Linked DNA regions of Homo sapiens: region 2 is linked to region 1. The links come from fine-mapping of genetic effects on gene expression. Tissue or cell type: whole blood. Region 1 holds a variant in brackets; the other region holds the start of a gene. All regions are shown on one strand. Distances are from middle to middle.

Region 1 (8,103 bases):
CCTGGCTAATTTTTGTATTTTTAGTAGAGACGGGGTTTCACCATGTTGGCCAGGCTGGTCTCGAACTCCTCACCTCAGGTGGTCTGCCTGCCTGGCCTTTCAAAGTGTGGGGATTATAGGCGTGAGCTGCTGCATCTGGCCTTACTTCAGTTAACGCCTAACAGGCTTTTTATTTAGTAACTATTAGCTTGATTATTGAGGCAGCTCTAATACATTGCTATCAGCTCTATTAGAAAATGATTCCACACGTGCAGCTAAAATGTATTCTTTTGCTTTGTATGTTGACCCTCATTTTGCCCTTCAGAGCCCACAGACAATGGGAGACCTTTAGCCATTTGAAGAGAGATGCCTTAATTCTCCCTGGGCCTTTGCTTTAGGGAAGAGAAGGGGAGGTAATGTTTGCCAAGTGTCTTCTGTGCACCAGGCATTTTTCTCATTTTTGATGTCTCATTTAGTCATCATTTAATCATAAGAATAGCATTTTTCTCATGTAAATCTAACTGGCCTGAGCAGAGGTTGAACCTGTGACTTGACCTCCTTGTTGCCACCAGGCAGTAAACCATTCAGTACTCGTGGACCATGTCAAAAACTATTTGTTCAACTATCAGACACTGTACTTAGTTTTATGAGGATACTGCCTTTCCTCAAGGTGCTCAGAGTCCAAAGAAGGAGACAGACACAGTATTAGGTTAAGTCACGGGGCCTGGATCACACAGTTAGCAAGTGCTAGTGAAGTTGGGATTTAGATAAAGACCCATCTGCCTCCAGAATCCATGCTCCGTCCACACTACCACTCTCCCTTCCTTCCTGGGGACACTTGAACTGGCACGGGGTTGTAAACAAGTGACCCTTTTGAAGTCATCTGTCTGTCCCTTGAAAACTTTCAACACCACTTTGAGAACTCTTTATCTTGCCTAAGGATACTCAGTTAATCATAGACTTGGTGTTCTACTTTTTTGTGGGATTGATGGTATAAATATTCCTCAGATTTTTGGAAATGTTTTGCATGCAACAGTGTCCATGGTTTTTATTGAAAATTAATTATGTATACACCCTGGAGAAAAATCATAATAAAATGATTTTTAAGAGTCCTGCCCTCTCTTCTGGCAAACAACAAAAACAAGTAAATAAAGAATATGGGTGGCCAGGCGTGGTGGCTCATGCCTGTAATCCCAGCACTTTGGGAGGCCGAGGTGGGTGGATCACTTGAGGCCAGGAGTTTGAGACGAGCGTGACCAACATGGCGAAACCCTGTCTCTACTAAAAATATAAAAATTAGCTGGGTGTAGTGGTGCATGCCTGTAACCCCAACAGGAGAATTGCTTGAACCCGGAAGCGGAAGCTGCAGTGAGCCAAGATCGCACCACTGTACTCCAGCCTGGTTGACAGAGCAAGACTCCATCTCAAAATAATAATAATAATAATAAAATGATTTTTAAAAGCCCTACCCTGTCTTCTAAAAAATGACAAAAACAAGTAAATGAAGAACATGGGTTAGCAGCAGAATAGGAAAGAGGCTGGGCCTAAGAATGACGGTGGGATACTGGAATGTGTGCGGCATATTTACTTTCCCCAAAGGGCTTCCATTCCTGTTATCTCAGGTGTCTCCACAGAAACCCATGAGATAGGCAGCTAATGAGTGAGAAAACAGGTAAGTGGCCTGCTGAGTCATCAGGGTGACAGTTCTGTATGGGTAGACTACAGTTAATGTGTTTTTCCTCAAGTCCTTAGCGATGAGTGGTTAGTAGTCTCTAAATGACCCTCCTCTCTGTGTGCCTTGTCCAGGGTAAACTGGTTGGAATCTGTGGCAGTGTGGGAAGTGGAAAAACCTCTCTCATTTCAGCCATTTTAGGCCAGGTAAGATTTTTGTTATTGTCCTTTTCTGCTGCTTTCTCTGGTTTGCAAGAGTCTCAGGAAAAACGAACAAATTTCCTGGAGAGTCAGGAAAGGTGGAAACAAATGAACCCTCAGCCTGCATTGTATGCCCCCAATCCCCCGCAGTTCCCCCCAGTTCTCCCCCTTCACAGCCTTCTGCCTGGAAGGAGGCCTGGTGGGCGCCTGATGGATGACTGACTGTTGTCCCAGCTGGAACCATTTGGTCTCATGCCTTCTTTCATTCAGCATGTATCTATTGAGTGCCACAGGTATGCCCGTGTATTGAAAATGTCAGAGATAAGAGATGAGCAGACACCCTACACTGCAGCGCTGCCAACAGAGTTAACCTGTAAAGAAGCAGGGCGGCCAGCACTCCCAGCCTCTCTGTCAGACAGGACTGTCAGGGTTTGATCTAGAAGCAAAGCCCCTCTGTTTTCTGCCTAATCCCTGAAAGAGTCATGCCCTTGGGGAGTTCATGGTCCAGTGGGGAGCAAGGCCTTGAGAACACAACAAGCACATCTCCAGGCAGGGAGTGAACAGCGTGCAGGGCCCAGCACACGGTGGCCAGTGCTGAGAGTGAGGGACAGGATGGGGCCGGAGTCATCCCACTGAGACACACTATCATTGCTGTGTTTTAGAATCAAACAATCCAGAAAAAAAAAAAAAACAAGGTGCCCACATGCTTTTACATTAGAATTAAATTAACTTGACTTAGATGGTTGAGATGAGCATAAACTTATGATTATCTCTACACCCTGATGGATAAGGTCCACTGAATTGAAATGAAACAGAGGGGGAGCAGGGGTGCTTTTGTAGCCCCCAGATTATGGAATGCTTTCTTGTCTTGTTTGGCATCAGCTGTCACAGTTGGTGAGTTGTGGTCCTCCTTGAGGGTGGTGGTGCCTGGGGCTGTCTGAGTCAGATCATGGCAGGCATCACCTCCACCTTCTGCTTTATGACACTCTCCAGTGGCTGGGCCCAGCCATTGGTCTTGTAAAAAGCACCAGACTTCCTAGGTGATTTATGATGACCAACCAGATTTGGAGGGCCAGTGAGGAGAGACAGAGATGGGGGGAGGGGGAGAAGGAAAGAAAAGGTCAATTCGTAAGTGCTGCTCTGCCATCTAGCAATGTGCTCCTTTTTCCAGGGTTGACTAGGCAGTGGTTAGGTTGAAAACCAAGTCAGGCTTTGCTTCTGGACAAATCCTGGCAACCCTGTCTCTGGCAGGGAAACGGGTTGGGCTGGTCAGCCCTGCTTTAACTGTAGTTTACATCTGTTGATAGCGCTGCAATGTGCGGTGTTTGTGCAGCAGCCAGAAGTGC[C/T]GGCTTTCCACAGTAGACCCCCTGGGGACTTCTGAACCCTTTGAAGTGCACATCAGAATGCTACCAGTTTGTGGTGTACGTAGGTACACCTGTGTGTGTACACGCTGTGTGAGGGTGTTTGAGAAGACCAGCTTATATGAACAAGTACTGCACAGGCTGGTTAGTGAAACTTTGCTTCAAAGCTGTAGCATCCCTAAACCAAGACAAATGTCTACTATCAGTCCCAAACAAAAGAAATCATGGAAGGGGGTAAAATGGATAAGTCAATTCATATCAAACCATTGCAACTGAACACAAACTTCAAAGCACATGGTTCATCACTGCTTGTGGGCAGGCAAGGTCCATCATTGGTAAATGGACACTGTGTATATATTATAAATACTAGGTGATGTCTAACCTGGACTTTTTTTTTCCCTTGGTCCTCATTTCATAGAAGCAACTGGTCTAGCCAGCATCCTAGGTAATTGCCTTGGATGAGTTGGCCTGCCCCCATGTTGAGGCAGGGATTAGCTGGAAACCCCTACAGCATCCTCTCCAGGAGAATTCTGCAAGAACCTCTTGCTTGTGCTTCTCCTAATTTAAACAGTTTGCACACAGCAAATGGGCTGCAGAGGGAAGTGTTTGCCTTCAAGTTATGGGTTATGCTGAGCTCCCATCACACATAAGCAAGGAGAACTTTGATTTTCTTTGCTGCTTAGCTCTCTTTGGAATTAAAGGTGGAATCTGGATTTGGGTCCAAAAAGCATCCCGGGAAATTACCAGAGCTAGATTCCATTGTGGAAGGTGGGGGTTCCGTTGGCATAGGGTGATGGTTTTGAGTTATGATGCCATTGGATGGTGTCTCTCTCCCTAGATGACGCTTCTAGAGGGCAGCATTGCAATCAGTGGAACCTTCGCTTATGTGGCCCAGCAGGCCTGGATCCTCAATGCTACTCTGAGAGACAACATCCTGTTTGGGAAGGAATATGATGAAGAAAGGCAAGGAATGTTTGGCTTCTGTCATGCTTTCCATCTTGGCCGCGTGAGATGCAAGGCAGCCCTAGTCAGCAGGCTCTGCTCCCGCCGTGTCCCTGACGCTGTCTCTTTGTGTCCTCCAGATACAACTCTGTGCTGAACAGCTGCTGCCTGAGGCCTGACCTGGCCATTCTTCCCAGCAGCGACCTGACGGAGGTACAGGCCTTCCGCCCCTGACCAGGCATTTAGCAGAGTGGCAGAGCTGGGCCAGAGCTGCTCCTGGGAGTGCAACTGAAATGCTTGGGAGAAGAGCCTCACAGGGAGTTAGGCTGTCATTAGGCCTTTGTGTTAGGAAAGCATGTGTCCATTAGGGCAGGGATGTTAACACTGCTTGTTTTAAGGTTGTAAGTATTTTCTGTGTCTTGGGGATTGTAAACAAAATCCCATTGTTGACTCAGAGTTGATGTTTTTTATTCTATCCAGATATTTTTAAAACTACAAGTAAGCGTGTGCATGTTGAGCATCTTCCTTGAACTTGATTTTGCCAACCTCCTTAACTCAGATAGTCTGTAGAGAGCCCTTTTCTATTAGAAAGAGCCCTTAGAACAAATCCACATTTCTTTGGGTCTCTGCCCTGCAGCAGTTTCCAGAGGCTTGTCTTTGGAACTAATTTGTGCTCTTCAGTGTTAAAACTTGTCTCCCATGAATTGCCCTGAAGGTCTCTGGGATTGGCACCTTTATTTAGCTGATTTCAGTTAAATCCCTCAAACCAGATTTGGTGAATGGTTTAATTACTTTAGAGGTCCTTAAATCCATGTCCCCAGATCAGCAGCATCAGCATCAGCATCATCTGGGAACTTGTTAGAAACACAAATTCTTAGGCTGTTCTCCAGACCTACTGAATCAGAAACTCTAGGGGTGGGGCGCAAAGGTCTGTTTTAACAAACCCTGCAGGTAATTCTGATGCAACTTCCAGTTTGAAAACCTCTGAATTAATTGAATATTTGACAACTGATTTATTCATTTAATCATTTAGTAACATTTATTAGGTGTTTATTATGTGCCAGTGACATGTGCAGACACTGTTTGGCACTAAGAATATAAAGGAATAAGACAATAATCTGCACGTAAAGAAGTGTACAGTTAAGAGGATGAGATACCCAAACAAATAGGCACAAAATAATCTGATGAAAAGAGCCCCATCTCTTTGGGGTACTAGCGGGAAAGAGGTTGGGGGAGATTTCAGAGGAGATGATGCCAGAACTGAGCAGACAAAGTAGAGGCAAGCACATGACATTGTCATGTTCATAGTATACACATAATTTCAAATGGCTTAGGTCCCAGGATGTGGAAGGGGGATTGTGCACTGGAGGCTGAGAACTGCTGGGGAACTGGGTGACAAAGGGTCTGGTTTGTATGCCATGTTTGGATACTCAAGGTTTATCCTTTGAGGCTCTTGAAGAATTTTAAGCAAGGGTGGGAGATGGTCAGCTTTGTGTTCTGGAAAGATCTTCCTGCCATGTGGAGAATGGATTGGAGGGGGAGCATCCGGGTGGACTGGCAAGACCAGATGTAGGATTGATCGGTACCCAGATGGCAGTGGTAGAGGAAGAGGCATCTGGGCCAACTCCCCCACTTCGTTGAAGGATCAGCATGGCAGTTCATCTGCGGGGAATCAGCATGGCAGTTCATCTGCGGGGAATTGACAGAAGGAGCTGGTCTGGGTGGGCAAGAAGAGAAGTGACTGGGTGACCCCTCCACGCTGTTCTGGACTTGCGCTGGAGGCTTCACCACACTTCTGGGCTCTTGTAGATTGGAGAGCGAGGAGCCAACCTGAGCGGTGGGCAGCGCCAGAGGATCAGCCTTGCCCGGGCCTTGTATAGTGACAGGAGCATCTACATCCTGGACGACCCCCTCAGTGCCTTAGATGCCCATGTGGGCAACCACATCTTCAATAGTGCTATCCGGAAACATCTCAAGTCCAAGACAGTTCTGTTTGTTACCCACCAGTTACAGGTATGGTTCTTTCTTCCCTCGGCTGCCTGCCTGAGTTTGGGAAATCAGAAACAGGGAGGTAGGTTTGCTCCAGGTATCCTTGTGTTATAACTAGAAATTCCTGGAATCAAGGTTTCATTTTCTTAGCAAATTAGCCCCCTGTACCAATAAAGCTCACTGTACCAGTGTAACAGATGGCCATCTAAATCAGAGATCCTTGGAGCATATCAGCTTCTGCATATAGATCAGCAAGTAAAAGGGCTGAGAGGAGCAGGCCAAAAATGGAGTTTGGGTATAAGATAGTTTGGAAAGCATTGTGTTAACATCTCTATGCAAGTGGGAACTGTTTTGGGAAAACAAGCTTTTCTCCCTCTGCCATTCCATCATAAGCAGGCACTTTGGAGAGCAGCTCAAGGATGTTGCCATCTGGCTCACATATGTTGTCACGTTTAGGGGGCAAACCCTCCATTCTGCCAAAGAAAGTCATAATTATGTATATTTGTGAGTGCAGTGAAAGGGTGTAAATTTAATGCAGGGCTCATGTGGCTCCATCAGCAGATTCATGTGAAAAACCGGAGGGACTCGGCCAGGCACAGTGGCTCACGCCTGTAATCCCTGCACTTTGGGAGGCTGAGGCTGGCGGATCACCTGAGGTCAGGAGTTCGAGACCAACTGGTGAAACCCCATCTCTACTAAAAATACAAAAATTATCCAGGCATGGTGGCACGTGCCTGCAATCCCAGCTACTCAGGAGGCCGAGGCAGGAGAATCCCTTGAACCCAGGAGGTGGAGGTTAAAGTGAGCTGCGATTGCATCATTGCACTCCGGCCTGGGCAACAAGAGCAAGACTCTGTCACAAAAAAAAAAAAAAAAGAAAAAAACTGGAGGAACTGCTCCTTATACTATGTCACGAGGCACAATACACTGAAGTGGGGTTCTCAGTGTTGGCACCACTGATGTTTTGGACCAGATAGTCCATTGTTGTGTGGGGCTGCTTTGTGCACCCCTGGCCTCTAGCCACTAGATACCAGTAGAGACAGTCGCTGGCTTACGGTTCAACTTACAGTTTTTTGACTTTATGATGGTTTCCACACAACCATTCTGTTTTTCACTTTCAGCATAGTATTGAAAAAAATTGCATGAGATATTAAACATTTTATTATAAAATAGGCTTTGTGTTAGATGATTTTGCCCAACTGTAGGCTAATGTAAGGGTTCTGAGCATGTTTAAGGTAGGCTAGGCTAAGCTCTGATATTTTCAATTTACGTTGGGTTTATCAGGATGTAAGCCCATTGTAAATTGAGGAGCATCTGTGTACCTCTCCCCCGAGTTGTGACAACCAAAAATGTCTCCAGCTGGGCGCGGTGGCTCAGGCCTGTAATCCCAGCACTTTGGGAGGCCGAGATGGGCGGATTACCTGTACGGCAAAACCCCGTCTCTACTAAAAATACAAAAAAATTAGCCAGACATGGTGCTGCATGCCTGTAGTCCCAGCTATTCGGGAGGCTGAGGCAGGAGAATCGCTTGAACCCAGGAGGCGGAGATTGCAGTGAACCGAGATTGCGCCACCACGCTCCAGCGTGAACGACAGAGCAAGACTCTGCCTCAAAAAAAAAAATGTCTCCAGATGCTGCCAAATGTCTTCTGGGAGCTTAACTCGTCTCCTGTAGAGAACTACTGAACTAATGTATGGGTTTTTGAATGTATTTGCACAAACAGCATATTGTGTTGTCTCTGCCTTTGCCTTCAGTACCTGGTTGACTGTGATGAAGTGATCTTCATGAAAGAGGGCTGTATTACGGAAAGAGGCACCCATGAGGAACTGATGAATTTAAATGGTGACTATGCTACCATTTTTAATAACCTGTTGCTGGGAGAGACACCGCCAGTTGAGGTAAGATCTGATGGTGTTTGCGTGTGTCCCCTTCTGTCTCTGCAAGGGAAACACAGCCGGAG
Region 2 (8,103 bases), 270 kb after region 1:
CCCCCTGGCAACTACTTTTTGTGTGGATAAACTTGCCTGTTTCTGGACATTTCGTATAAATAGAATCATACAGCACGTGGCTTTTTGTATCTGCCTTTTTTTTTTTTTTTTTTTTTTGAGACGAAGTCTCCCTCTGTCGCCCAGGCTGGAGTGCAGTGGCGCGATCTCCGTTCACTGCAACCTCCACCTCCCGGGTTCAAGCAATTCCCCTGCCTCAGCCTCCCGAGCAGCTGGGATTACAGGCCTGGGCAACAGACTGTGATTCTGTCTCAAAAAAAAAAAAAAAAAAGAAAGAAAAGAAAAGAAAAAGAAAAAATCTGCTTCACAAGTCTTGTTTTCTGTGAGAAAACTGCATCAACTCCCACCATCTACTGGGTATCACGACAGAAAACAGACTGAAAGCAGAGCAGGACCAAAGGCAGGGAGATAGGGAACAATCCAAGAACGTGGCAATGAACATTCAAATAAAAATCCGTAGTTGATGAGAAGAGGACAGGACCAACTATTTCTGAGAATCTATTCTAAGAAAATACAGGGTAATGTACATCGTATGTGGGCTACACTCAGAGATCTACAACCTAAATGTTAATTCTCTTCTTCCTATGGATTTTATAATAAAAAATAACCCACAGTAAAATATCATGCATCCACTGAATGAACATGAAGCATTTGAAACTGAGAAACATGTGGGGAGAACTCTGCATGCTGTATGTCAAGCTACCTATTTTTAATATCTAAAGAACTTTTGACAATCAATTAGGAAATAACAAAAGATGACAGAGAACAGGAAAAGAAATTCACAAACAGCCAATAAATGGGAAAAAAATGTTCAAACATACTAGTAATCAATAAATGAAAAAAACACAAGACACCATTTTTCATCGATTAAGTTTAGTTTTGGGGCAGATGGAAATGGGGCACTTTTTTTCTAATTTGCACTCATTAGTTTCATTTCCTCACATCCGGTTCCCACCTCCCACTTCCAGAACTATGGACAGGAAGACCAATGACCAAAACCAATAACCACCGTGTTGCCAAATTCAATTGACAATCTTAATGAACATCTCAGAAGCCCTGATAAAAGGACCAATTCAACATCTTCCAGAAACACCTCTTTTGGCTGCCATGATACATGCCATTTTGGTAGGAGCTTTTTCTCCTACCTCACTTGCTGTTTCCTGCGTCCTTTCCCCAACCTTCTTCCTCTACCAGACCTAGAGGTATTTGAGTGTCTGCGCCCTTTTCACTTCTCCACACTCTTTCCCCTCAGTGATCTCACACAGCACCATACCTTTGAATATCATCTACGTACAGATCACTCCCAATTTTTTTTTTTTTTAAGAGACGGGGTCCTTCCTGCCTTGTAGCCAAGGCTGGTCTAGAATATCTGGGCTCAAGCGACCCGCCTCGGTCTCTCAAAGTGCTGGGATTTCAGGTGTGAGCACCGCGCCCAGCCACTCCCAGATTTTTATCTCTAGCTCTAGCCTCTCTCCTCCTTGAGTTCCAGCCCTCTACATCCAACTGCCTCAACACACCGACTTCATAACTAACATGCATCTAAAATTTAATACATCTAAAATAGAATTCGTTTTTCCCACCTCAAATTTCTCTCTTCCATTCTTCATCTCAGTAAACAGCACCACCACCTACTCAGTTGCTCAAAACAAAAATCAAAAAAGCAAAGATTCCCACCATTCCCTCACCAATCCAAGTCTTGTTCATTCTACCTTAAAACATTTAAAAATCTGTTTATACTTCCCCATCTCCCTGCCACGGGCCTAGTCCAAGCTACTGCAAAGAGCACAGTAACTGACCTCGTAGGTTCCTCCCCAGCCCTCTTCCTCTACATAGCAGTCGGATCATGCTACTCGCCTTCTCAAAACCTTCAAAGGCTTCCCGGGAAAAACTAAACTCCTTATCAGGGCATCATCTGCCCTATCTTTTAAAGAGTATACACAAACAGGAATATACATCCAAGGGTAGTATCTCTAGATCGTAAAACTGCGGGCATTTTTCTCTGGCTTTGCTTGTATTTTTAAATTTTTCTACGCTGAATACCCTCTACTCATTAAGAAAGGGGAAATGATATTGCTGAATTCTATATAATATTATACCGCATTTTTTACATGTGAGCGAGAAAAGGGAATGGAAAACGTGGGTCAACTCTGTAACTGCTGAATGCTTAGATGAAAATACTAGCCAACATCAAACTAAAAAAAAATGATGTGTCAGGCCTGTAAGATTGCTGATGGCATTTCTCTTCCTCTGGTTTCTATTTCTTAACATAATCACATTCATGATGGAGAAAACCTCATTGTCTTCTGCAGTCTGGCCACAGCCCTTCAAGCCAGCCTTTCCTGCAGGAGTCCTCACTTTCCGAGGCTTCCACTCCGCCCCGCACTGCCCGCAGCTCCGGCGCGTTGGCCCCGGCCCCATCCCTGGACCCCCAAAGCCTCTCTGACCCCTCCCCTCCATCCCAGGGAGGCCCGGTGGGGATGGCGACAGGTTGGAGGGGCATTCCAGGATCCTTTCGGTAAACCCACGACTTTCTGGTGCTGGGGCCAAATCTTGCCTCCAAGGCCAAGAGCTTAACATCCTAAAAGCTCCGGCCGCTGTGGCTCGGGGTCCCGTATCCCCTCAGCGCAGCGCCCCGCTGAAGAGGAAGCCCCCAACTCACGTTCCAATTCCAGGCTCCCGCTTCTGCGGCTCCCCGGCCCGCACCTGGGATCCTCCCTGCCCTCCCCTCGGCCCCGGGGCCTCACCGGGTCCCGCTGCCGCGCTGCCTGCCGATGGGGGAGGGGCGCGCACGTGCCCGCGCCGCCCCCGCCCAAACAATGCCCCGGAGAGCGGGGCGCGCTCCCGGCCGGTCCCTTCCTGCGCCCGCCAACACTCACCCTTTCTCCGGGTCTCCGGCTGCAGCGCGGGCCCCGCCGGCCGCCGCGAGAGAGCACGGCGAGGTGAGAGAGCGGGCGAAGCCCCGCGGAGCTGCCCCGCCACAAGGCCCCAGCGACCCCCGCAACCTGCGGAAGCACACGGCGCGGTGGAGCCCGCCCGGCGCGTTCCGCCCCGCACGTCAGCAGCTGGGCGCGTCGGGGCGCGCGCGGCGGCGCGCGCGGCCTCGGGGCGGAGCTCCCAGGGATGAGGGCGGGGCGGGGCGGGGCGGGGCTGGTCCGGGCTGGGACCCCGGCCCGCGAGGGCACTTCCTGGGCAGTGTGGGCGTCGATTCTTGCAAAGGCACAGTCGTCCATCACTTTCCTGCCCCAGAAGATGGCGAATTTCAACCCCAAGTTTGACAGAATATTCATTCTGCCGGCGTGTATGAGCTTCCCTATTAATCACAATAGTGACTATGATGTTTGTGTGTGCCATCTTTGTGCCAACCCATGTGCTAAGTGCTGGGTATACAAAATAACAGTAGTTATTTCTAGCCCATTTTACAGATGAAGAAACTGAGGCAGGGAAGGCTTGAGACTTATCTCAGTCACACTAGCTAGTGACAATCCAAGTCCAGTTTTCCACCTAAATATCACTTGAGGCCAACATTCTCTTTCGTTGTAACTCTACCACCCTACCCAAGACCCTGTAATCTCTCTGCCCAAGACTATGAATAGCCTCCCAACTGGTCTTGGGGAACTTCTGTTCCCCTTCAATCCCTTCTCACTGTATAACGATTTACTACTGGAGCTGAGTGGTGGGTTTAGGAAGTTCACTTTTTTTTTTATACTTTACATACATGTTACCAAATTTTTAATGTATTTAATGTTTTTATCAACGCATAATAAATATAAGTGGTGTTTTGTTTTTTGTGTTTTTTTTTTTTTTTGAGATAGAGTCTCCCTCTGTTGCCAGGCTGGAGTGCAGTGGCATGATCTTGGCTCACTGCAGCCTCCGCCTCCCGGGTTCAAGCGATTCTCCTGCCTCAGCCTCCCAAGTAGCTGGGATTACAAGGCGCGCGCCACCACGCCTGGCTGATTTTTGTATTTTTAGTAGAGACAGGGTTTCACCATGTTGGCCAGGCTGCTCTCGAACTCCTGACCTTAGGTGATCCACCCGCCTCAGCCTCCCAAAGTGCTGGGATTACAGGCGTGAACCACCACCCCCAGGCTAATTTTGGTTTTTTTAGACAGGTCTCACTATCACCACAGCTAGTCTCACACTTCCGGGCTCGAGAGATCCTCCTGGCTGGGCACGGTGGCTCATGCCTGTAATCCCAGCACTTTGGGAGGCTGAGGCGGGCGGATCACCTGAGGTCAGGAGTTCAAGACCAACCTGGCCAACATGGTGAAACCCCGTCTCTACTAAAAATACAAAAATTAGCCAGGTGTATTTGGGCATGCCTGTAATCCTAACTACTTGGGAAGCTGAGGCAGGACAGTCACTTGAACTCGGGAGGTGGAGGTTGCAGTGAGCCATTGCACTCCAACATGGGCAACAAAAGTGAAACTCCATCTCAAAAAAAAAAAAAACTAAGAAAGGCTTCCTTGAACCTTAAGCTAAGACTCAAGAGATAATAGGAACTGGGGAGATAAACAAATTTCATGGAGAAGGGGGTGAGGTCACAGGTCAGGATGAGTGTGTTGGTGTTCCCCTACTCTTAGGGTTTAACAGTGAGGTGGAAAGCATAGAAATACCCAGATAAGTGCCAAGAAAGCTAGAAGCTGACTTCCCTTGGTGTAGCTTGGAAGGCTGTCCAAGTCTGTGAGAAGGCTCACACAGTAGGGCTTGGGAGCAGGCCATGGCGTTGGGAGGAGTCTGCAATAGTGCTGCTGGAGCGCTGCAGCTTGCACATTTAGGTATGTCAGAATTCCAGACTTCTCTTGTTGCTCCCTGCCTGGCATGCAGAAAGTAGCATGGTTAAGAGCCATGGACAGACCAATAGGCACTGTGCCAGGGGGCAGGTTTCCTAAAGCAGAGGCCTTGTGGTGGGCTGATGGCCAGGGAATGGCTACAGAACGTAGCTAAGACCCCAAGGATAGGCAGTACTGAAGATACCAGTGGAGCTGAAGCACCCCTAAGTCAGCTGGTGAGAGGAGCGGGGATGGAGGAGTGGGGATGAAAGATGAGACATCAAACTCTGAAGGTGCTAAAGCAACAGGTCATGAGCTTGCCAACCAACCACCTCAGCAGCTGATGCCTGCAGGGCAGTGGAGACCAGAAGTCACCAGAGACATAGCAGCAGAGGCCAGTGAGAACCCAGGCTATAGCTTGAAATCCCGCACACAGATCTCCCCTCCCACCGCTGCCTTGAGGCTTCCCCTGTATCCTGTAGGCCGCCTTGGGAAGTCAAGGGGAAGAAGGGTAAAGTTCTGATAAGACTACAACTTTGAACTGTTTACCCAAATATTCACCAAAATGAAACTTTTTTTTTTTCTTTTGAGACTGAGTCTTGCTCTATTGCCCAGGCTGGAGTGCAGTGGTATGATCTTGGCTCACTGCAACCTCCGCCTCCTGGGTTTAAGTGATTCTCCTGCCTCACCCTCCCGAGTAGCTGGGACTACAGGCGCGTGCCACCATGCCCGGCTAATTTTCTGTATTTTTAGTAGAGACGGGGTTTCACTGCGTTAGCCAGAATGGTCTCGATCTCCTCATCTCGTAATCTGCCCGCCTCAGCCTCCCAAAGTGCTGGGATTACAGGCGTGAGACACCACACCCAGCCTATTTGCCCTTTTAAAAACATCACTTGCAGCTGGGCGCGGTGGCTCGCGCCTGTAATCCCAGCATTTTGGGAGGCCAAGGTGGGTGGATCACCTGAGGTCGGGAGTTCGAAACCAGCCTGGCCAACATGGTGAAACCCCATCTCTACTAAAAAAAAAAAAATGCAAAAATTAGCTGGGCGTGGTGACACATGTCTGTAATCCCAGCTACTCTGGAGGCTTGAACCTGGGAGGTGGAGGTTGCAGTGAGCCGAGATCATGCCACTGCTCTCCAGCCTAGGTGACAGAGTGAGACTCCGTCTCAAAAAAAAAAAAAATCATTTGCCCCAATGAGTAGGTGGGGAATGACTGAAGAGGTGTGTGAACATAGAAGCAGTGAGACAGTTGGAAAGCAATTTCAGTCATCCAAGCAAAAATTGAGGGTGGCACTGGTCGTGGTGGCTCACACCTGTAATCCCAGCACTTTGGGAGACGGAGATGGGCAGATCACCTGAGGTCAAGAATTCAAGACCAGCTTGACCAATATGGTGAAATCCCGTTTCTACTAAAAATACAAAAAAATTAGCTGGTCGTGGTGGCTTGTAATCCCAGTTACTCGGGAGACTGAGACAGGAGAATCGCTTGAGCCCAGGAGGCAGAGGTTGCAGTGAGCCAAGATCGTGCCATTGCACTCCAGTCTGGGCAATAAAAGGGAAACTCCATCTCAAAAAAAAAAAAAAAATGAGGATGGCTTACCCTGGCAGTGGAGATGGTGGGAAGGAGATAGATACAAGAACTATGGAGAAAATACCAGAAGACTTGATGACGATGAACTGGGAGGAGACTGGGGAGAGAAGGGAAGGGGACTGGCCTCTGCTAAGTCAAAATGGCCTCTTAGATAAACTGCCCCTTCCTCCAGGCAGACTCAGCTCTGCTCTGGAGCTTGGCAAGTGTTTAGAGGCTGGTTTTAGGCTCCTGGCTAGCCAGGCTCCCTTAGGCAGCACTCACCTGCACAGCCACTGGAGGTGGGCCTGGAGGGAGAACTGGGGTTGGCTCATACGTTTCCAGCAGTGGCTGATGGTGGATGATGGTGTCATTTCCTGAAAGGAGGGAGACTAAAGGAAGAACAGATTTGAATGTTGGGGGTGGGAGAATCAAGAATTCCCTTTGGGGCATTTTAAGTTTGAGGCATCCACTCGAATACTTTTTTTTTTTTTTTTTTTTTTTGAGACAGAGTCTCGCTCTGTTGCCGAGGCTGGAGTGCAGTGGTGCGATCTTGGCTCACTGCCACCTCTGCCTCCCGGGCTCTAGCGATTCTCATGCCTCAGCCTCCCAAGTATCTGGGATTACAGGCGTGTATTACCACACCCGGCTAATTTTCATATTTTTAGTAGAGACGGGGTTTTACCATGTTGGCCAGGCTGGTCTCGAACTCCTGACCTCAGGTGATCCACCTGCCTTGGCCTCCCAAAGTGCTGGGATTACAGGCATGAGCCACCACACCTAGCCCTGAAGATATTAAATCTGTACATAAGGCTTTGGGGCTCAGAAGAGACCTGATGGGTGGCACTGTCAACGTACTGTTGTCAACAGGTAGTTAATGAACACTGGTGAGGTTGCCATGAAAGAGTACAGTTCAGAGAGATTGCGTAGTCACAGCCTACAGATGTCACATTTTGTTTTAAATGAGCCAACATTTCAAACACTGACAAATTTCACATAATACCCTGAATTTCTGCTTCTATGGAAAATCAGAAACTGTGGTAACCTGGCCATACGTTGTTATTTTTTATTTTATTGTTATTTTTGGGGGGATGAAGTCTTGCTCTGTAACCCAGGCTGGAGTGCAGTGGCACGATCTCGGCTCACCGCAACCTCTGTCTCCCAGGTTCAAGCAATTCTCCTGCTTCAGCCTCTCGAGTAGCTGGGATTACAGGCGCATGCCACCACATCCGGCTAATTTTTGTATTTTTAATAGAGAAGGGGTTTCACCATGTTGGCCAGGCTGGTCTTGAACTCCTGACCTCAGGTGATCCGCCCACCTCGGCCTCCCAAAGTGCTGAGATTACAGGCGTGAGCCACCGCTCCCAGCCCATACATTGTTATAATTGGATATTAGCTATTAATAACACTACTTACCAGGCAGTGCTCCAAGCACTTCACAAATTTAATCTTTGTAACAACTTTATTATTATCATTCCTACTTTATTTTATTTTATTTATTTATTTTTTGAGATGGTGTCTCGCTCTGTCGCCCAGGCTGGAGTGCAATGGTGTGATCTCGGCTCACTGCAACCTCCGCCTCCTGGGTTCAAGCGATTCTTCTGCCTCAGCCTCCCGAGTAGCTGGGACTACAGGCGCGCGCCACCACGCCCAGCTAATTTTTAAAATATATTTTTAATAGAGACGGGGTTTCACCATGTTGGCCAGGATGGTCTCAATCTCTTGACCTCGTGATCCGCCTGCCTCG

The links. PIP is the estimated chance that this variant, and not a neighbour inherited with it, causes the effect.
Region 2: it holds the start of YEATS2, and the variant in region 1 is fine-mapped to the expression of YEATS2 in whole blood (TOPMed, PIP above 0.99).

The regions. Positions count from the first base shown.
Region 1 is chr3:183,961,449-183,969,551 of GRCh38, reverse strand. It overlaps ABCC5 (ATP binding cassette subfamily C member 5), which reads left to right. Exons shown (of 30, transcript NM_005688.4): 12 at 1,786-1,857; 13 at 4,051-4,175; 14 at 4,295-4,367; 15 at 5,964-6,167; 16 at 7,898-8,041. Among named protein-coding and RNA genes, the nearest start is that of ABCC5-AS1, 41 kb to the left of the region's middle. The variant C/T (reference allele first, on the strand shown) is at 3,198.
Region 2 is chr3:183,692,785-183,700,887 of GRCh38, reverse strand. It overlaps YEATS2 (YEATS domain containing 2), which reads right to left and starts at 3,091. Exons shown (of 31, transcript NM_018023.5): 1 at 2,895-3,091. RefSeq lists a silencer at 2,717-3,186.